Linked DNA regions of Homo sapiens. The protein of the gene in region 1 purifies or fractionates together with the protein of each later gene. This does not show direct contact. Each region holds a gene or a part of one and is shown on either strand. Other genes may lie near its edges. The genes, in order: SLC38A2, SPPL2A, PIP4K2A, TMEM87A, PIP4K2B and ADGRG5.

The links.
Region 2: the proteins of SLC38A2 (region 1) and SPPL2A fractionate together in Homo sapiens (co-fractionation; one large-scale study listed by BioGRID). This does not show direct contact.
Region 3: the proteins of SLC38A2 (region 1) and PIP4K2A purify together in Homo sapiens (affinity purification with mass spectrometry; one large-scale study listed by BioGRID and IntAct). This does not show direct contact.
Region 4: the proteins of SLC38A2 (region 1) and TMEM87A fractionate together in Homo sapiens (co-fractionation; one large-scale study listed by BioGRID). This does not show direct contact.
Region 5: the proteins of SLC38A2 (region 1) and PIP4K2B purify together in Homo sapiens (affinity purification with mass spectrometry; one large-scale study listed by BioGRID and IntAct). This does not show direct contact.
Region 6: the proteins of SLC38A2 (region 1) and ADGRG5 purify together in Homo sapiens (co-immunoprecipitation; one large-scale study listed by IntAct). This does not show direct contact.

The regions. Positions count from the first base shown.
Region 1 is NC_000012.12:46,366,274-46,369,773, reverse strand, and holds part of SLC38A2 (sodium-coupled neutral amino acid symporter 2), read left to right. Parts: intron 1-2,433; coding exon 2,434-2,507; intron 2,508-2,605; coding exon 2,606-2,698; intron 2,699-2,828; coding exon 2,829-2,910; intron 2,911-3,500. UniProt on the Homo sapiens protein: Symporter that cotransports neutral amino acids and sodium ions from the extracellular to the intracellular side of the cell membrane.
Region 2 is NC_000015.10:50,701,766-50,704,236, reverse strand, and holds the end of SPPL2A (signal peptide peptidase-like 2A isoform 1 precursor), read left to right. Parts: 3' UTR 1-1,971; downstream 1,972-2,471. UniProt on the Homo sapiens protein: Intramembrane-cleaving aspartic protease (I-CLiP) that cleaves type II membrane signal peptides in the hydrophobic plane of the membrane. Functions in FASLG, ITM2B and TNF processing.
Region 3 is NC_000010.11:22,708,079-22,711,578, forward strand, and holds part of PIP4K2A (phosphatidylinositol 5-phosphate 4-kinase type-2 alpha), read right to left. Parts: intron 1-3,500. UniProt on the Homo sapiens protein: Catalyzes the phosphorylation of phosphatidylinositol 5-phosphate (PtdIns5P) on the fourth hydroxyl of the myo-inositol ring, to form phosphatidylinositol 4,5-bisphosphate (PtdIns(4,5)P2). Has both ATP- and GTP-dependent kinase activities.
Region 4 is NC_000015.10:42,266,934-42,270,433, reverse strand, and holds part of TMEM87A (transmembrane protein 87A isoform 1 precursor), read left to right. Parts: intron 1-2,401; coding exon 2,402-2,487; intron 2,488-3,500. UniProt on the Homo sapiens protein: Potential monoatomic ion channel gated by mechanical force, implicated in normal touch sensitivity through the generation of mechanically activated currents.
Region 5 is NC_000017.11:38,793,057-38,796,556, reverse strand, and holds part of PIP4K2B (phosphatidylinositol 5-phosphate 4-kinase type-2 beta), read left to right. Parts: intron 1-3,500. UniProt on the Homo sapiens protein: Participates in the biosynthesis of phosphatidylinositol 4,5-bisphosphate. Preferentially utilizes GTP, rather than ATP, for PI(5)P phosphorylation and its activity reflects changes in direct proportion to the physiological GTP concentration.
Region 6 is NC_000016.10:57,573,643-57,577,689, forward strand, and holds the end of ADGRG5 (adhesion G-protein coupled receptor G5 isoform 1 precursor), read left to right. Parts: intron 1-1,172; coding exon 1,173-1,450; intron 1,451-1,795; coding exon 1,796-1,896; 3' UTR 1,897-3,547; downstream 3,548-4,047. UniProt on the Homo sapiens protein: Orphan adhesion G-protein coupled receptor (aGPCR). Ligand binding causes a conformation change that triggers signaling via guanine nucleotide-binding proteins (G proteins) and modulates the activity of downstream effectors, such as adenylate cyclase.

The DNA.
Region 1 (3,500 bases):
TTAGCCATTTTTGCGTCACTGACTCTTGGAGAATATGATAGAAAAATGTGGATCTTATTTCCAGGGAAAAAGCACAAAACAAAAATACATGCAATCTTAAGCATGTATTTTTCAGTGATGTTTGTGTCATAGCCCTTAAGTTTAAGTACCCGTGGACCCCTGGCTAAGGCAATTTCTGTGGAGGATTGTGTAACTTAATACCTTCATTGTACAGATAAGGAAACCATATGTATATAGCATGGAATTGTCCCTTTGTGACAGATGTGTTTTACTTAGCTGATTGGTGCCTTCTACTCAAGTTATTTTCTCCAGCACGATAGAATGTTCATGAAAAGAAAAGCAGACCTTTGCAAATCTCTGCTTTGTGAAATTCCACACTGAGGTTAAGCCTGGCTTTGAGTACTAGATGCTAGGATTCACTCTGGCTTGCTTCAATTAGGATGAGGCTTTTTGAGAGAACTCTTACTAAGGTGAAGGACCAGCGATTTACGTAGAATCCTAGAATCTCAGGAGTTCTTAGTGGAGAACCTGAATGGCATCACTGTCGAATATTTGAAATCCTTGTTAGCACTTGGTATAAAAACTGGAGGCAGTTTTAGAGTGCAGCCAGTGTAGTTAAAGTAAGAATTGAAATGATACTAAATGGCACCTCTGTTTCATAAGTGAAGGTCAAATTCTGATGTAACCCTTGTACTCTTGGAATTATACTTTAATAGGTGCTTATGTCATTGATTTACCATTTTGCTTAATGGCTAAATAAGATTGCTAAAGTGTGATTTTATTCATCAGTACTTACTTTATATTTAGAGGTATAGAGGAAAATGGGCCAAAAACCACATGGCTGCCACGGTGCACTTCAGCAACCCTGTAGCTAACCTGTTTAAGTAGAATCAATCTGAAGGTTGAAAGTGACCTCAAAGGTTATAAAGTCTATTCATCCCTTGTCATTTCAGTATAAGACATGGAAGGACTTAATTTGGTTTGTTTTTAATTAAACCAACATATTTTCTCCAGTTAGAAGTGAGGTTGATAGTGTCACTTCAGACTAGGTCCTGTAAAACTTCTGGCATTTAGAATGGTAGTGTAAAGCCACTTCCTCTGTTTAACTAATAGACATCAGTTTCTTTGTCAGCACCTTACATGGTACTGCGTGCAGTTTGTTCATACGGAATTAAAAAACATGTAACTCTTCTCCTTTGCAAGGTTTTCTATGAGTTTCCCTGTTTTGTTATTTAATTTCTTTAAAAAATTAGTCTGTATCTCTGGGCTCTCCTAGGTGGAAGGAAAGTAAAGCTGGAATGAGGGAGAACCCTTACCCTAAAGGAAAATTAGGTGACATTAGGGTCCCTTTAGTCACTCTATGTTACCTTATTTATTTATTTTTTTTCTGTTGCTCAATCCAAGTGAAAGGGTCAAGGGAGGAAAGGCTTAGAGACAGTCAAGCTGATAGCCTACTTGTTCTAGCACAGACATTGTTTAACTGTGACAATAGTGGGCCTGTATTCCTTGCCATGGGGTGCAATGTAGTATGTCATCACAATGGTTAGTTCTCTGATTTGTGCCCAGTTGTTAGTAAAGCTTGTAGTGCCTCTTAAAATGTTAGTATCATGTTAGTGTCATTTCCCCCTTACCATTCTTTTCCTTTTCTTTCTTTTTTTTTTAAAAAGACAGTATTTCATTTTGTCCTCCAGGCTGAGTGCAGTGGCAAACTGCTGGGCTCAAGTGATACCCCCACCTCAGCCTGAGTAGCTGAGACTATAGGTGTACACCACCACAGCTGGCTTTTTGTTTTTCCTTCGGTAGAGATGTGGCTTCCCTATGTTATGTTGTCCAAGCTGATCTCGAACTCCTGGCCTCAAGCAGTCATCCTGCCCCAGCCTCCTAGAGTGCTGGGATTACAGGCATGAGCCACTGCACCTGGCCTGTCATTCCTGTTTTTGTGTATACGGTCCATGTGGTCTTAAAACCTTTCCTGAACGTGTCTCAGTTGAATTTCCCAAGAACCTTGTGGGCTGGGTTTAGTGGCGGATATTACTAATATTTTACAGATAAGGGGAACTACTGAAATGCAGAAAGGTGGCAAGCATACAGCTCATTATTGTGGTGCCAGAATCAAAATACAAGTTTCAAACTCCATCACTGGGAAGTTGAGCTTTCCAGTGTCTCATGCTATGTTTGGCTCAGTGGGTAGACATCCTTGTTCCTAACCAATGCTGTAGAACTATCACCTGAGAAATGATGCAAGTTTTTACTGCCAGCCAAGAGACAGTGTTGCCATTCCAGTTAGTAGGAGAGGAAATGCCAGTTCTTCAGGGCATTTTGACACAAATAGGACAAGTTGCACACATAATGTTATTTAAACATCCAGAAAGAGTTGTCTTTAAATATAGCCATGCTTATTTATAACCCTATGCCTTTTCCTTCTCTCACCAGAATTCTCTTGACATTTGTGTCAATATTTTCCCTGTATTCTGTTCATCTCCTTTTGAAGACTGCCAATGAAGGAGGTATGATAGCATTCTTGATTTTTCTAAAACAATGTATACCTATCATTTTATTTCTCTTTTAAAATCCTTGGCTTCATGCTTCTGTCTTCAAATTGTAGGGTCTTTATTATATGAACAATTGGGATATAAGGCATTTGGATTAGTTGGAAAGCTTGCAGCATCTGGATCAATTACAATGCAGAACATTGGAGGTAAGAATTTTTCAAAAGATTATTTGGGTAGACTTTATGCTCATTGTGGAGCACAGAATGGTGACACATGCGTTTTAGTGTCACGTGCCGCGTTTTGCACTTGTAATGGTATAATTTTGTTTTCCTCCAGCTATGTCAAGCTACCTCTTCATAGTGAAATATGAGTTGCCTTTGGTGATCCAGGCATTAACGAACATTGAAGATAAAACTGGGTAGGTGCTAAGTAAGGTTACTCATAAGAAACAATTATAGTCAAAAGTGGTTAGATACATTTTTATCAAAGTTGTATACAAAATGATTAGTTAATTATCCATAAATGTTCCTTTTGAAACTGACCAAGAAGGCCCCCCATCCCCGTAAACTGATTCGAACTTTGGAGAAGGAAAGGCCGAAAGATAGTAGCTAGCCCTACAATTTTGGATATCTTAATTTCTAAAACAGGTTTTCTAGAACTTGCTTTCTGTCTTTATGTTCATACTTAAAGAAGTTATAGGTGTTTTTAATATATATCCTAAGTGAGGACTGAAGCTTTGAATTACATTAAAAATTAATCCGTCTTATTTTTGTAAGTTTGGAATTCTTAAGACTTAATCTGTTCAATGCAAAATACAGGCTGGACATCCCTAATCTGAAATCCAAAACTTTTTGAGTGCCAACATGACACTACAAGTGGAAAATCCACACCTGATCTCGTGACAGGTGTGCAAAATTAATTAAAATACTGTATAAAATCACCTTTAGGCTATGGGTTTAAGAAGGTGTATAGGAAACATAAGTGAATTTTGTGTTTAGACTTCAGTGC
Region 2 (2,471 bases), on another chromosome or scaffold:
CTGAGTAGCTGGGATTATAGGCATGTGCCACCACACCCGGCTAATATAGTATTTTTAGTAGAGACGGGGTTTCTCCATGTTGATCAGGCTGGTCTCGAACTCCCAACCTGAGGTGATCCGCCCGCCTCAGCCTCCTAAAGTGCTGGGATTACAGGCATGAGCCACCGTGCCTGGCACTTGTAGATTTTTTTTTAGATTAGCAATTCCTTAGTAGAATCTGCAATTTATTTCTCTTTTAAAGAGAATTTTAACCCATCTGCTATTGGCATTCTTATATTTTACTTGTCCATAGAGATTTTAGTGAATTGATACATTTATAATAAATACAAATGAGCTTTCCAGTTTTCTTTGCTCTTTCAATTTATGCTTTAGTATAAGCAAAAATTACTATTTTTACATTTTTAAAAATTGTGGGTACATGTAGGTGTATATATTTATGGAGTGCATGAGATGTTTTGATACAGGTATGCAATGTGAAATAAGCGGATCATGGAGAATGGGGTATCCATTCCCTCAAGCATTTATCCTTTGAGTTATAGACATATTTTACATTTGAATAAAAAATATTTGAACTAAGGCCGGGTGCGGTGGCTCACACCTGTAATCCCAGCACTTTGGGAGGCCAAGGCGGGTGGATCATGAGGTCAGGAGTTTGAGACCAGCCTGACCAACATGGTGAAACCCCGTCTCTACTAAAAATACAAAAATTAGCTGGGTGTGGTGGGGCTCGCCTGTAACCCCAGCTACTCAGGAGACTGAGGCAGGAGAATCGCTTGAACCTGGGAGGTGGAGGTTGCAGTGAGTCGAGATCACACCACTGCACTCCAGCCTGGGCGACAGAGCGAGACTCCATCTCAAAAAAAAAAAAAAAAAAAAAAAATATATATATGTATATATATATATATATATATGTATATATGAACTAATTTATTTAGGCTTAATCTCTAAAATTTCAGCCTGATCTTAACCAATGAAATTTCAAAAACAAAAACTGTACTTCAGTCTACAATTGAATGGAATTCAGTGTAGACCAGTACAATGGAATGTACTGGCTGAGATGGGAGGGTCCCTTGAGCCCAGGAGTTTGAGGCTGTAGTGAGCTGTGATTGTGTCTGTGAATAGTGACTGCACTCCAGCCTAGGTGACATAGCAAGATGCCATCTCAAAGAAATATAGATATATAACATAAAATAAATAACTTTATACATTTCCTGGAGGAAAAGTACTCTGTAAATTCAAGAGATCTGAATCAAATTACTCAACCTTTTGGAATTTGATCCTCTACTGTAATACTCATATGCTAGATTACTGAATTTTCAGAGTGAAAAAAAATTGACAGGGTAATATATAGGCCATATTATAGTGAAGATCATAAGTATAAATGTCCTCGTTTAATCTTTCCATATTGAGGACAGCCTCTGCATATAAAAATGTTCATTGGGAGAAAAATTATTTTTAAAACTAAATTTTTATAGTAGTCCTCCATTACTGGCAATTAAGGAGCAACCCACAAAATGTCATTATGTGGTTCTTTGATTAGGCATAAAAAGTATTGCAAACAGCTTTTCTATTCCTTTGGAATATGAATCTTTTTAATGTCTAAAGTTAACCTGCAACATTTTCTAGTAGGACAAGTCAATGTAAATTAGGTAATTTTTGCCTGTTTTATACCTTCTGTTGCATTTTGTTCAAATGAAAACATTTTTTAAAACATGATTGAATTTTTACTTCTCAGATAATTGGTTTGAGTGTGGAATTTCTTTTTTAACACTTTGATATGTAAGTTAGTGTAAATTAATACTTTTATAACACTACTAGGCTTTATATTTTTATGGAATGTTTTAAAATTTGAAATTTTTGAAGTGTTAATTTAGCAGTACTTTATCATTATGTGCCAATACTGACAAGAAAAACAATTTTTTATGTATTTAATATACTATGGTATTCAATAAATTCTATTTTAAAATAAAATTTGAATTTGTTTTATTTTGAATGAGGAAACTAATTGAAAATGAACTAACAGTGTGCTAGATAGATCATGTTCATATAACACAAAAATGGTAATAATTGCTTAAGAAATTATGTAGCTATTTAGGTTTTACAAATTATCCTTAAAACCTAGATTCTGGCCGGGCACGGTGGCTCACACCTGTAATCCCAACACTTTGGGAGGCCGAGGTGGGCGGATCACGAGGTCAAGAGATGGAGACCATCCTGGCCAACATGGTGAAACCCCGTCTCTACTAAAAATACAAAAATTAGCTGGACGTGGTGGCATGCGCCTGTAGTCCTGGCTACTCAGGAGGCTGAGGCAGGAGAATCACTTGAGCTGAGGCAGGAGAATCACTTGAGCCCGGGAGGTGGAGGTTGCAGTGACCGAGATCGTGTCACTGCACTTCAGCCTGGCGACAGAGCAAGACTCTGTCTCAAAAAAAAAAAAAAAAATAGATAAATAAATACCAAGGTCTATA
Region 3 (3,500 bases), on another chromosome or scaffold:
GAATGGAAACGAAGAGACGGATTCAAGGAAACTCCCCAGGGATTCCTAACAAAATGGCATCTTTCACCTTCCTTCTACTTACCTTCCAAAAAAGAGGAATTGCCTCTACTTCCACTCATTCACTCCTTAAGTCTTTAAGCTTTCACAGCCACCCGCAATCAACCACAAGCACAGCCATGACTTTCAAGCACTTGGGAACATCTAATTGTGCCGACCTCTGTTTTCTCCTCCTGTTTCTTCTTCCTCTGTCCTTCCCTCAAAGCCAAGTGTCCCCAGTGTCCCTGCTCCTCCGGTGGAGATCTGACTTACCGATTCTGTACGGGCAGGTCTCAATGGTCTATCCCAGCCCTAGTGGCTCCCGAGCTCCAATCACACCTTTCCAGCATCCTACATGGTACTGTAACTGCAGGATCCACCCACCACCATCACCTGCAATTCCACATTCTTAAATCTAAATTGCTTGTGTCCCTTTCCAACCTACAATTTCTTCTCCCAAATTCTCTAATCTATCATGGGGCCACCATTCTTCTAAGGGCTCATCACATACAGTTGGGGCTGGGGGAGGAATCCTTAGTGGTAAAGTTCTTCCTTCTACTGCTATGTAGCCTGTGGACCTGCAGCATCAGTACCACCCGAGAGTATGATAAATGCACAGTCTCAGGCAGCACTCCCAACAGATCTGCTGAATTAGACACTGCATTTTAATTTTTATTGTTTCACATTTAGTGGGAGCCTCCATCTGTCACCCAAGCTACAGTACACTGTACAACCATGGCTCCCTGCAGCCTGGACCTCCTGGACTCAGATGATCCTCCCACCTCAGCCTCCTGAGTAGTTCAGGCTACAGGTGTGTGCCACCATACCCATCTATGTTTTTACATTTTTTGTAGAGACAGGGTCTTGCTATGCTGCCCAGGCTGGTCTCAAAATCTTGGCCTCAAGCAATCCTCCTGCCTCAGCCTCCCAATGCATGACTAGGATTACATGCATGAGCCACCTACCCAGCAGCAGAGCCTAATTTAGCAGACTTTTTTTTTTTTTTTAAAAGTCCCCGATTGATAAACACCTTAAATTTTGAGAAACAGGGATCTGGTTCTTTTAATATATCACCATCCAAACTGCATTTGAACTTTATTACTTTTAGGCATCATTTACTGAATCCTTATGATGTGCTAATTACAGTGCTAGGCCTTAAACACAGTATCTCATTTAACTCTCAACCCTGTGAAGTCATATCATTATCTCCATTTTAAGAATGTGAAAATTGAGGCTCAAGTGACTAAATCACCTGCTCAAAGAGCCCATCAGTTCCAAAGTTAGCATTTGAACCTCATCTGTCTAACCACAAACCTTTTTTGCCAAATTGCACCAATTCCCTTCAATTCCAAAATTTGTATTTCGAAGGCTATGCTGGCAGAATTAATTACTCTGGTTGCCTGTATTTTCTAATCAACTTAAGGCAGATTTTGGTGGTTTATTATAATTCTTGCCGGCAACCTATCTAAAGACACAGCAGATCAGGATACCCTGGAAATAGAAATCACTGACCTGACATGGGGCATCATTCTGAGTACTGAAGTTTAGTAACTGTAAGTACTAAGTAACACTAAGTACTAAGTATAAATACTTAGAGTTCACTCTAAAGTATCTGACAAATGGAGAGGAAAATGTATTCTGTTCTCTGGTTATAATCCCAAGTTTTAAGGAGTATAAAACGACTTCCCTAATAAACTTTCTGTATGTCTGCTTGGTATGTTTCTTTCCTCTGAAGATTAAAAAGAACAAAAAAATAGTTTGAGGAGACTAGTTCTTGAATGAATGGTAGCTGGGTTCCACTCAATAATTTCATCTAATGTCTAATTTTAATTTTAATGTAATTGCCTTATTATGTCCTATTCAGTCAAAGTCATTTCACAGTCACTCAAATCACTTTAAAACTTAGTTTCCTTATCTTCTTTCAGTGCCCAAATAAAAACCCATGAACCAAAAAAAAAAAAAAAAAAATTATGATGTATCCAATATGGTCTTTGTCTATTCCAAAAACCAGAGCTTGTGGAGAATATAATCAAAGCTACTGACGCTCCACCAAGGACACCATGAATTCTCCAATCCACACACAACACAGCACATGGTGCTCATCAGGCTGGCCCTCACAGATTCCCACGGTAAAGACCCACGGATGTCCAGAACCATCCAGCTCTATTACTCGGACAGAGACCTGCCTGAAACTGCCTGGCAGGCCCTTTCCCCTCTCTGGGGACTGTTCTTTCCCCAACGCCAACAGGCAAGCGCTGCCATGTTTTTATAACTGCTTAGTCCAAGGGACGGCCACAAATGACCAAGGCCAGACCAATCCCAAGTGGAATCCTTCCACGGTATTTTTATAACTGAATTAGAGACAGGAAACCCTTTTGGGGGAGCAGAAATGACAAAATGTGAAATACAGGAACCGTTCATTCCCTGCTCTGTGGAGGAACCAGCCAGCTATGAAGGAGAACTGAGCCAAAGGGTACAGAAAAGTCCCACGCACTCACACACCCACACACTCAAGCACCCAGCTCTTCACATGGTTCCATTACCAGCCTTTCCTTCTACTGTGATAGGCCCCCCAAACCCCTCAATACCTGACATTTTTGCCAAAGCTCATTTCAACTTCTACAGCTTTAAACCAAAAGCCTCTAACATCAATACTTAGCTACTTCTAAATGCTACATGTTTTAAACAAGTTTTATGTGCTTTAAGATTTTTCTATACAGATAATGTTTTCCTTTGGATATTTAAATAGGTTTTAAAATACTAATTTCTAAAAGGCTCACATTTCACTGTGGATAAAAATCTTTTAGAGTATCTATTTAAAACAAGTCTTGGCTCATATCATTCAACATCCTCCCCACACTATTAAAATATCATCTTAAGACGCTTACTGTTTGATCATTTTTAGTTTAATTCTAAATGTAACAAGACAAAACTGCCTTAAGTCTTTTCCTTTATGTATTCAGTTATATTCTCTGCTTAAAATACTTAAAAATTGGCACTGATCCATTCACTGATGGGTATTTTAAGTTACAAAGCAGTAACATATCAAATTAACCACACAATGGCAGGCTTACTCCCGACTATGACCATTGCCCAAATCAAGATTTTCATTACCACCTCAATGGACTTGAACATTTTCACCTTAATTGCAAGTTGTTATGTTTCAATCAAATCGACTTTGGCTTAATAGACTGCAATGCAGTTCAGCTACATTCAATATAACAAACCCTTAGTTCACAGTCTCTTAAAATCACCATAGATTTCCTTCCCCTGTAGTCAAGGTCTTGAAAATTCCCTGAATGTTGCTGCATTTGGAAGGTTATAATAGTAAGACAACTTTTATATAGTATTCTACAAATCCTAGTATAACACTGTGCACCTAGTAGACTGAAAAAACAGAATCTTGAGTTAGACTTGGAAATCATCCAAACAACCTCAGTTCACAGATGCAAACACTGATGCCA
Region 4 (3,500 bases), on another chromosome or scaffold:
GAAGTGTTTATATTTCATTGTTTTTGGAGGATTTGAGGCACTTTATTTTTTGTTGTTGTTTTTTGAGACGGAGTTTTGCTGTGACGCCCAGGCTGGAATGCAGTGGCACGATCTCGGCTCACTGTAACCTCTGCTTCCTGGGTTCAAGCGATTCTTCTGCCTCAGCCTCCCGAGTAGCTGGGACTATAGGCGCGTGCCACCACGCCGGCTAATTTTTGTATTTTTAGCAGAGGTGGGGGTTTCACCATATTGGCCAGGCTGGTCTCGAACTCCCGACCTCAAGTTATCTGCCTGCCTTGGCCTCCCACAGTTCTGGGATTACAGGTGTGAGCCACCGTGCCCGGCCTGAGACACTTTAACATTATCTTTTTCTTTGTTATTTCTGTGCTTTCTCATATTTACCAGTTGTCTTTGATTTTGTACTTTTTGGGGGATGGTATATAGCTTTCCATGGAATAGCTGGGACCATTTTTTTTTTTTTTTTTTTTTTTGAGACGGAGTCTCGCTCTGTCGCCCAGGCCGGACTGCGGATTGCAGTGGCGCAATCTCGGCTCACTGCAAGCTCCGCTTCCCAGGTTCACGCCATTCTCCTGCCTCAGCCTCCCGAGTAGCTGGGACTACAGGCGCCCGCCACCGCGCCCGGCTAATTTTTTGTATTTTTAGTAGAGACGGGGTTTCACCTTGTTAGCCAGGATGGTCTCGATCTCCTGACCTCATGATCCACCCGCCTCGGCCTCCCAAAGTGCTGGGATTACAGGCGTGAGCCACCGCGCCCGACCTTATTGTCTCTTAAAGCCTTTCATTTAAAGTTCTAAATATTGTCTTGTAACATAAACAGCAGTATTTTTGCTGCCAAATTTCCTTACAAGTCTCCTGTTTGGGGGATGTGTTCTTACTGGCTTTTTATTAGTTAATCCTGTCCCTGTATGGATTATTTTGAATAGTTCATAGCCCAATTGCTTTTTATCATTTCCATAAATTCTATCCAACAGGTCAAATTTTTGAACATTCTAATAGAGTCCTTTGAAAATGTGTTGGTCATCTAAAAATTAGTTTGAGAAAACAGTTTAAAAGAAAAAAAAAGGAAGCTTATAATTAGGTTGCTTCTTTTGTTATGAATGAAAAGTAGATTCCTAAATGCAGTCATGTTTATTTTTGTCATGTTTATTATTACATTTATATAAAGTAGGGAGTCTTTAGTATATTTTTCCTTTCATAGCTAGAATCAAAGATAAAAGCGAATACTGACTTCCTCCAGCTAATCAGTCATATAGTCAGATTTACCCTCCCAAGTCTTCAGAATAATGTCTTGATCCATTAGAATACTGTGTTCCAAACTGTGTTTAATGAGCTTTATGAAGCTTCCATGATAACATGAGCTTCCTTGAGGCCTCTTTTAAGGTAGGCTTTGAAAAAAAAAATCTGATACTCTTATCTTTGCTTTTGCTATTTCTACCTTCCACAGCCATGTTTGCTTTTCGTTCATTGCTCTTTCTGTTCTATCTTGATATCTTTCAAGGTCTGAGATAGCAATTTTGCTCTCAGTGGAACTATTATGTATATCATCATTTAACACCATTTAACAGTTGTTAATATTGCCTTGTGACATGCATTCCTAATTTTATTATTGCTTGTCTCTTCAACTAGCCTTTTGAAGGGTCTTAATAATTTGTTTCCACTCGTTTCCCTCTTTAGCCTAACAGTGTGCCATTATACCTTTGTAATACTTGTGCTATTTATTTATTTATTTATTTATTTATGTTTTTTGAGACAGGGTCTCGCTCTGTCGCCCAGGCTGGAGTGCAGTGGTACCATCATGGCTCACTGCAGACTTGACCTCCTGGGCTCAAGTGATCCTCCTGCCTCCCTTGCCTGAGTAGCTGGGACTACAAGCATGTACCACCACGCCTAGCTTTTTAATCATTTTTTGTAGAGATGAGTTCTCACTATGTTGCCTAGGGTGGTCTTGAGCTCCTGGGCTCAAGCGATCCCCCTGCCTTGGCCTCCCAAACTTCTGGGGTTATAGGTGTGAGCTACCGCACCTAGCCTGCTCAATAAATACTTAAATAATAGAAGACTGGCTTGAATTTAGAGTGCTTTATCACTCCCAGGTTTTTCTCAATAGAGATCCAGAAGTTAGGACTTTATGGCATAAAAATAGATCCACAGTTTCCAGAGGTTAAAAACTGCTTACCTGCTATTTTTCTATGAACAACAATACTTTTATCTTAATATCCAGCTCTTTTTGCATGTATTATTTCAATACCTTATGTTTGGAGAAAGGATGGTCTTTGAGTATCTCAGTTTAGGGTACGAAATGAATAGGATATAGGTTAACAGCTTAGGAAAAATGCTTTGTTGGGGAATTATCTTTTGTTAACAAAGATTTCTTCTTTTGTAGTTGATGGAGAACCTTGTGACCTGTCTTTGAATATAACCTGGTATCTGAAAAGCGCTGATTGTTACAATGAAATCTATAACTTCAAGGTAAGGAACATAAAATTACAGAGTTTTTTTGGACCTTAGTGATTATCTGGTTCCAGTCTCTTAATTTCATAGAGGAAAGAGTATCATGTAGCTATGGAGGAGGAGAGCTGAAACTAGAATGCATGCTTCCCAATTTGCAGACCACCAATTCTCAAACTTTTTGGTTTCAGAACTCTTATATTTGTAAAAATTATTGTGGACTCCAGAAAGCCTTTGAGCATGTGGGTTATGCTATTAGAAATTACAACTGAGAAAATATAAAAATATTTATTAGTTTATTTTAAAGTAGCAATAATAAACTTATTGCATGTTAATATAAATAACTGTTTTTCCCAGAAAACCACACAGAAGAGTAGGATTGTTTTGTATTTTTGTAAATTTGTTTACTATCTGGCATAACAGAAGATCACTGTATTCTTATATTCCCTCCTTCACTCAGTCTGTTGCAATAATTTGGCTTAAGTACATGTAGAAAATAATGACCTCATACAGATATATAGTTGGGAAAAGGAATGGTATTTTAATGGCCTTTTCAGATAACTGAGGATATTCTTTTTTGATTCTATACCAAAACTCAACAAGTGGAAGTTTTTAAAGGTTAGTTGCAATGTGGAATCTGAAATATTAATGAACTTTTTTTGTACTCTGATAAGAAATCCACTGATATGAATGTATCTTTTACCTGTGTGTGATCTTGTAGCATCATTTATTGGTCATTTAGAAAATAGCAGTTGACTGAATTATATACATTTTTATAAATATTAACTCATTTCACACTTAGCTAAAAATTACATTGTTTATAACTATACCCTGCCCTCTTCATCTCATCAGTAGGTTCTTAAGTTTTGGAAGCCGTTAAATTCAGTGTAGCAGATACAAGTTCTTCAAAATTCCAGTTTTTGCTTGAAATCTCAAATTTTATTTTGGCAGTGAATACTGTCAGTTGTCTTCCTTGAGGGGACAGCCTCTGTTGCCCATTTCCAGAGAAATAACTCTCAAATAACCAAGTCTGA
Region 5 (3,500 bases), on another chromosome or scaffold:
TTGCACCTGTCAGGGAAGAACTAGTGAAGAGCAAAAACCAGTGTTTTAGTGGATGAAATACAGTTCCGAGGGTTTGGAATTAGGGAAGAGATGGCCTCAGAGAGGAGCATGGAGACCATGGGAGGTAGACCTGACTTGATACTTGTTGGCCATTTTAAGAACCAGGTATGTGTGAAGCCTTACCACAGGGATCAGAGGAGCAGGAGCAGTTGATGGTGACTCTGTATTTAACCATTTGAGAAACTGCCAAACTGTTCTCTAAAGTGGCTGTACCATTTTACATGTCTACCAGCAGTGTATAAGAGTTCCAGTATCTGCATCCTTGTCAACACTTGTTATTGTCTTTTTAAAGTTATTAAAGCCATTCTGTTGGGTGTGAATTCGTATCTCATTGTGATTTTGTTTGTTTGTTTGTTTTTGTGATGGAGTCTCACTCCGTCACCCAGGCTGGAGTGCAGTGGTGCAATCTCGGCTCACCGCAACCTCCACCTCCCGGGTTCAAGCAATTCTCCTGCTTCAGCCTCCTCAGTAGCTGGGATTACAGATGCCTGCCACCACACGTGGCTAATTTTTTTATTTTAGTAGAGACAAGGTTTCACCATGTCGGCCAGGCTTGTCTCAAACTCCTGACCTCAGGTGATCCACCTGCCTCGGCCTCCCAAAGTGCTGGGATTACAGGCATGAGCCATCGCACCCGGCCTCATTGTGACTTTGATTGGCATTTCTGTGATAACTAATGATGTTGAGCATTTTTTCATGTACTTACTGGCCATTTGTACATATTCTTTTCTTTTTTTTTTTTTCTTGAGACAGAGTCTTGCTCTGTCGCCCAGGCTGGAGTTTAGTGCCACAATCTCAGTTCACTGTAACCTCCGCCTCCTTGGTTCAAGCGATTCTCCTGCCTCAGCCTCCCAAGTACCTCGGATTACAGGTGCCTGCCACCACACCCAGCTAACTTTTGTATTCTTAGTAGATATGGAGTTTTACCATGTTGTCCAGGCTGATCTCAAACTCCTAACCTCAGGTGATCCACCTGCCTTGGCTTCCCAGAGTGCTGGGATTACAGGTGTGAGCCACTGTGCCTGGCCTGTACATTTTCTTTTTGTTGTTGTTGTAGAGACAGGGTCTCGCTTTGTTGCCGAGGCTGGTCCTGAACTCCTGGCCTCAAGTGGTCCTCCCGCCTTGGCCTCCCAAAGGACTGGGATTGCAGGCATGAGCCACATCCCCAGCCTTCATTGGTATCTTTTCTTTGGAGAATGTCTATTAAATTTTTTGCCCATTTACAAAGATCTTTTTGCCCATTATTAAATTGGGTTATCTTCTTATTATTGAGTTACAAGAATTCTTTTTATATTCTAGATACAGGTCCCTTATCAGATATATGATTTGCAAATATTTTATCCTATTCATTGAGTTGTCTTTTTCATTTTTCTTTTTTTTTTTTTTTTTTTTTTTTTGAGATGGAGTTTTGCTCTGTCGCCCTGGCTGGAGTGCAACGGTGTGATCTTGGCTCACTGCAACCTCTGCCTCCCGGGTTCAAGCGATTCTCCTGCCTCAGCCTCCTGAGTAACTGGGATTACAGGTGCCCGCCACCACACCAGGCTAATTTTTGTATTTTTAGTAGAGACAGGGTTTTGCCATGTTGGCCAGACTGGTCTCGAACTCCTGGCCTCAAGCAATCCCCCCGCCTCGGCCTCCCAAAGTGGTGGGATTACAGGCGTGAGCCACTGCACCTGGCCTGCCTTTTTCATTTTTCTTATGGTATCTTTTGAAGTTCAAGTTTTTAACTTTAATAAAGTCCAGTTTATCTTTTTTGTTGTTGTTGTGTGTGCTTTTGGTGTTATATCTAAGAAGACATTGCCTAACCCAAGGTCATGAAGATTTACTCCTTTGTTTTCTTCTAAAAGTTTTATAGTTCTAGCTCTTTTTTTTTTTTTTTTTTTTTTTAATGAATTGGGGTTTCTCTGTATTGCCCAGGATGTTCTCAAACTTCTGGCCTGAAGCAATCCTCCCAACTAGAGTTTTAGCTCTTTCTTTCTTCTTCTTCTTTTTTTTTTTTTAATTGTATTGTGGTCAGAACATTTAACATAAGATGTACTCTCATGACAAAATTTTAAGTGTACGATTATGTTATTGATGACCATGGGAACAGTGTCATAGTGCAGCTCTGTAGAGCGTATTCATCTCGCTTGAATGAAACTTTATGCCTACCAATTAACTCCCCATTTCCCCCGCCCCCAGCCCCTGGCAACCACCATTCTACTCTTTGTTTCTATGAATTGGACTGTTTTGAAACCTTATATAAGGAGAATCATGCAATATATGTTTTTCTGCGACTAGCTGATCTCAGCGTAAGGTGCTCAAGGTTCATCCATGTTGCACATAGCAGAATTTCCTTCTTTTATTAAGGCTGAATAGTATTCTGTTGTATATGTATACCACATTTTCTTTATCATCTGTTGATGGATTTGTTTTCACACCTTAGCTCTTGTGAATAGTGCTGGAGTATGTATAGTTTTAGTTCTTACATTTAAGTCTGTAATCCATTTTGAATTCACTTTTGGGTATGGTGTGAGGGACAGATTTATTCTTTAGTCTGCTCAATTTCTCTCCTACATTCCACCCCAGTTCTGTTCTGTCCATACATTTTCTTTCTTTCTTGTTTTTTTTTTTGTTTGTTTTTTTGAGGCAGGGTCTCGCGCTCTTGCACAGGCTGAAGTGCAGTGGCACAATCACGGCTCAATGAAGCCCCTACCTCCCCATGCTCAGGTGATTCTCCTGCCTTAGCCACCCGAGTAGCTGGGACTACAGGCACATGCCACCACACCCGACTAACACTTGTATTTTTTGAAGAGTCGGGGTTTTGCCATGTTGCCCAGGCTGGTCTCGAAATCCTGGGCTCAAGCGATTTGCCCACCTCGGTCTTCCAAAGTGCTAGGATTACAGGCGTGAGCCACTGACCTCCTTTACCTGTCTTTTTATCTTGCCCTACTGCTTTAAAAATCTTCAGAGGGGCCTGGCATGGTGGCTCACGCCTGTAATCCCAGCAGTTAGGGAGGCCAAGGTGGGCGGATCACCTGAGGTCAGGAGTTCAAGACCAGCCTGGCCAACATGGTGAAACCCCGTCTCTACTAAAAATACAAAAATTAGTCGGGCATGGTGGCGCATGCCTGTAATCCCAGCTACTCGGGAGGCTGAGGCAGGAGAATCACTTGAACCTGGGAGACGGCGGTTGCATTGAGCCAAGATGGCGGCATTGCACTCCAGCCTGGGTGACGAGCAAAACTCCGTCTCAAAAAAAAAAAAAAAAGAAAAAATCTTCAGAGATGGCTGGGAGCAGTGGCTTACGCCTGTGATCCCAGCACTTTGGGAGGCCGAGGCAGGCGGATCACTTGAGGTCAGGAGTTTGACACCAGCCTGGCCAACATGGCGAAACCCTGTCTCTACTAAAAATACAAAAATTTGCCGGGTGTGGTGGCATGCGCCTGTAATCCCATCTA
Region 6 (4,047 bases), on another chromosome or scaffold:
AAGTTACAAAGTCATTTGGCATATGCCCTATGTAAATGGAGAGGATATTTTCTGTCATAGCTGAAGTGTTTCCATTTGATTTATTTTTATTTATTTTGAGATGGAATCTCGCTCTGTCACCCAGGCTAGAGTGCAGTGGTGCGATCTCGGCTCACTGCAACCTCTGCCTCTCGGGTTCAAGTGATTCTCCTGCCTCAGCCTCCCGAGCAGCTGGGATTACAGGCACCTGCCACCACGCCCAGCTAATTTTTGTATTTTTAGTACAGACGGGGTTTCACCATGTTGGCCAGGATGGTCTCCAACTCCTGACCTCAAGTGATTCGCCCACCTCGGCCTCCCAAAGTGCTGAGATTACAGGCATGAGCCACCGCGCCTGGCCTCCATTTGATTTAGTTCTAGGAAGTCCTTACATTTCCCTGTCTCTAAACCCTTTTCTCCTGCCTCAGCATGACATTGTGTCCGACTAAAAGGTGGCATCTGTCTTGAAGGTGTCTTGGGGAGGCAAAGGGCAGAGGCCTCCGGGAGGGCGTGGGACCGGGGCTGGCTTCGGTTAGTTCTCCATGGCTCTCTGCTCAGCCCTCAGTGGGCTCTCCTGCGGCTCTGTGTGCTCTCAGGTTGACACTTGGAGGGTCCCTGTCCACCAAGCCACAGGTTGGCAGCCCGCCCACTCTCCAGCGCAGGCCTTGGTGGCCCCGTCTAGGTGGGGAGTGGCTCCTGGGGAGGGGCGTCCCACTGCAGAGATGGTGATGAGGTGGTGACAACCATGTAGTGGGGTGGAAGGGGAAGTTTCCAGGAAAGAGGGCTCCGGGCCAAGGATCCAATAGAAGATGGGGCATGCCGGCCTTGGGCTGGCCATGGAAGCAGAGAGGAGTGAGATGTGGAAAGGAGAGAGGAAGAATTTTCAGGGGGGTGAAGACATGGGGACGTGAGAGAAACCACTGTGGCTGGAAAGGTGGGCATGAGGGAGCTTCAGATTGTTGACCAAGGAGGCAGATGTGTCCTCTGATGGTGGCCTGGCTGGAAAGCCGGGTGAGGGGTTTCACTGTGTGTTCAGTCAGGCAAGAAACAATAGGGCCTGAGCCAGGAGACCGAGTGGGGCTTCAGGGAGTGATGCTGGCCTCCCCGCGGGCCTGGGAGCCACTGTGAGCCTGACACGTCACCCTCCCCTGCAGATGCTGGGTGCGGAGCCCCGTGGTGCACAGTGTCCTGGTCATGGGCTACGGCGGCCTCACGTCCCTCTTCAACCTGGTGGTGCTGGCCTGGGCGCTGTGGACCCTGCGCAGGCTGCGGGAGCGGGCGGATGCACCAAGTGTCAGGGCCTGCCATGACACTGTCACTGTGCTGGGCCTCACCGTGCTGCTGGGAACCACCTGGGCCTTGGCCTTCTTTTCTTTTGGCGTCTTCCTGCTGCCCCAGCTGTTCCTCTTCACCATCTTAAACTCGCTCTACGGTAGGGCTGGAGGGCGGCCTGGAGGAAGCTACCTGGCAGGGGGTGTATGGCTGGTGGGATGTTCACTGCTAAAGGGGTTCAGGTGAAGGGGGCGAGTGGGGGACTAACATCCAGCCCACAGCTCCACTAGCTAAGCTGGTGGGGGCTACATCTGCATGAAGGTACCCTATGGACTGGCCACAGCAGCTCTTCCAGCTCTGAGGCTCTGCCCCTCTGGCCTCCTACAGTAAGAGATTCTGGGAGTTGCCCATGGGCCCCAGGGAGGCCAGCTCGCTGCAGCCAAGGAGACCCTGGCCTTTGGGGAAGCCCATGCTGCCCCGTGGAACTCCCGCCTTTCTCTTGCAGGTTTCTTCCTTTTCCTGTGGTTCTGCTCCCAGCGGTGCCGCTCAGAAGCAGAGGCCAAGGCACAGATAGAGGCCTTCAGCTCCTCCCAAACAACACAGTAGTCCGGGCCTCCTGGCCTGGAATCCTCAGCCTCTCTGGCCGCCAGTAGCCTGAGGCTACGGCTCCTGCTAGAGAGGGTGGCAGGCCTGCTGCTGGACCCCAGAGGCCACTGTGACCGCCAAGGGGCCTTTTCCACTTCCACGGCCTCTCCAGGCACTGAGGGGAAGGCATTGCTCTACCTCTCCCTGACATTTTGCTCCGGGGCAGATCCAACCTTACCTGGGGCAGCAAACTTTGTCCTGGTACCTGGGCCCAGCTCGCCAGGGATGTGGGCAGAGCACCAGCCTGGGCATCAGGAAGCCAAGTTTCAAGGACTGTCTTTGAGTCTGTCTGTATGACCTTGGGCCTGCCACTTCTCACAGACCCTAGGTATCCACAGCTGTGACATGGGGGCAAGCGGCTTTGTTTCAGCCTAACCCAGGAGCTTAGTAAAAATTGCATAAGACCAGGGGGAAGAGTGTCAGCGTGGGGTGGGAATTCCCGCGGCCTCCACCTGCTTGCTAGGGGCAGGATCTCATTCAGGCTGCCCTGGAAGCACCTGCTTGGCCCTGCCACCTTCCTCCAGGGGAGGGCCAGATGGCATCCTGGCTTGGGGCGGGTGGGACCTACCCAGGCTCTGAGACTTTACTGGCCTATGCCTGAGGCCTCTTTTCCTTTAACTCCCTAAATTATGATGACTCCAAGTCCAAGCCCACCCTTCCCAAAGATTGGGAGGTTCCGCCGTTCCCAGAGGCTCCTCCTGCGGTGCTCCCAAGACTTCCATAGACCATCTGGACCAGTAGCCCATCCCGCAGTTTTCTTGGGGGCAGAGGAAAACGCTTCTTTCTCCTCCAGCTGAATCAGCTGGATCCCAGTGTCCTGGCTGTTTGGTGATTGGGCAAGATTGAATTTGCCCAGGTAGGCGTGAGAGTGTGGGTTTTAAATTCGAAGCTCAGGCCATAGTTTCAGAGAATCACCCTTACCCCAGACCTTCATGAGACAGTGCTCATGAAGCCAGTGCGTTTCCCAGAACGAACACTAGGCGGCACCGTTGGTCCACACTCAGAGGCCCTTGGCGCCAAGACTGCATCTAGAATCGCTCAAACACCTGTTTGCAGACCCCATGCACCAGCTGGAGGGGCCGTAACTGCAGGACTGCGCCTACTGAGTGACCCATTTCCTCCAGGAGGAAAGGCAAGACACGCTTACACGGCCATTTGTCTCTTTTCCCAATGCGGCGGTGCACTTTCGCTCTTGGGGGCTGCACCCCAGACATAGCTGGCACCAGAGCAGGGTGCTCAGGTGGTGGGTGCTCAGGGCCCTGCCCCAGGCCACTGGGCCGTTTTGATGACCTCGAAGGTCACAGGCAGAAAATAGGAGCAGGATTTCCCCTGGGGAAAAGTTCTCCTGGGACATCTTCTGCTCTTCTGTACATTTCTAGATGCAAATAACTCCTTCACCAGGCAGTGAGTGGCGTAGGCTCTGGAGCCAGGCTGCCTGGGCTCCAATGCCAGCTCTGCCACTTGCTAGCTGTGAGACTGTGGACAAACCACTCAGCCTCTGTGTGCCTCAGTTTTCCTATTTGTAAAATAGAGGCCATAGTGGTACCTATTTTGAAGACTAAGTAAAAGAATTCAAATAAAGAGACTTGGCACAGAGTAAGTGCTCAGTAAATGGTTACTGGTATTATCATTAGTATTTTTGCTATTATTGTTAACAGTGTTAACTGAGTTTCAGAGGCCAGCCTGTCTAAGCCCCAGGCCCAGCTCTGCTCAACCTTGTAGGCACAACCCCTTCTTAGGCACATCTCACCATGCCTCAGTTTCTTTCCCCAGACGGGTCTCTACTCCCACCTCGCTGACTTTCTGCTGTTCTAGGAATAGTCCCCACACAGTGCAGCCTCCAGGCCATGCCACATGTCCCCCGACCTCCCAGTTCCCCAATCTTCCGGTCTATAGAAATTCCTGGTGGTCATTTATCACATCTACAAAATTGCCCCAGCGGTGCCTAGAGAAGGCCTCTTTCCCACGCTAACTCCAGGCAGATTCTCCCCACCCCTGCCACCATCTGGGTGATGTGAGCACCCATCCAAGCTCCCATGGTTAAGCCCAGGCTCTCCAGGCCTTGGGGCAGGGGGTCCCCTTGCTAATGAGGGTCCCGAGGAATTATGGGAA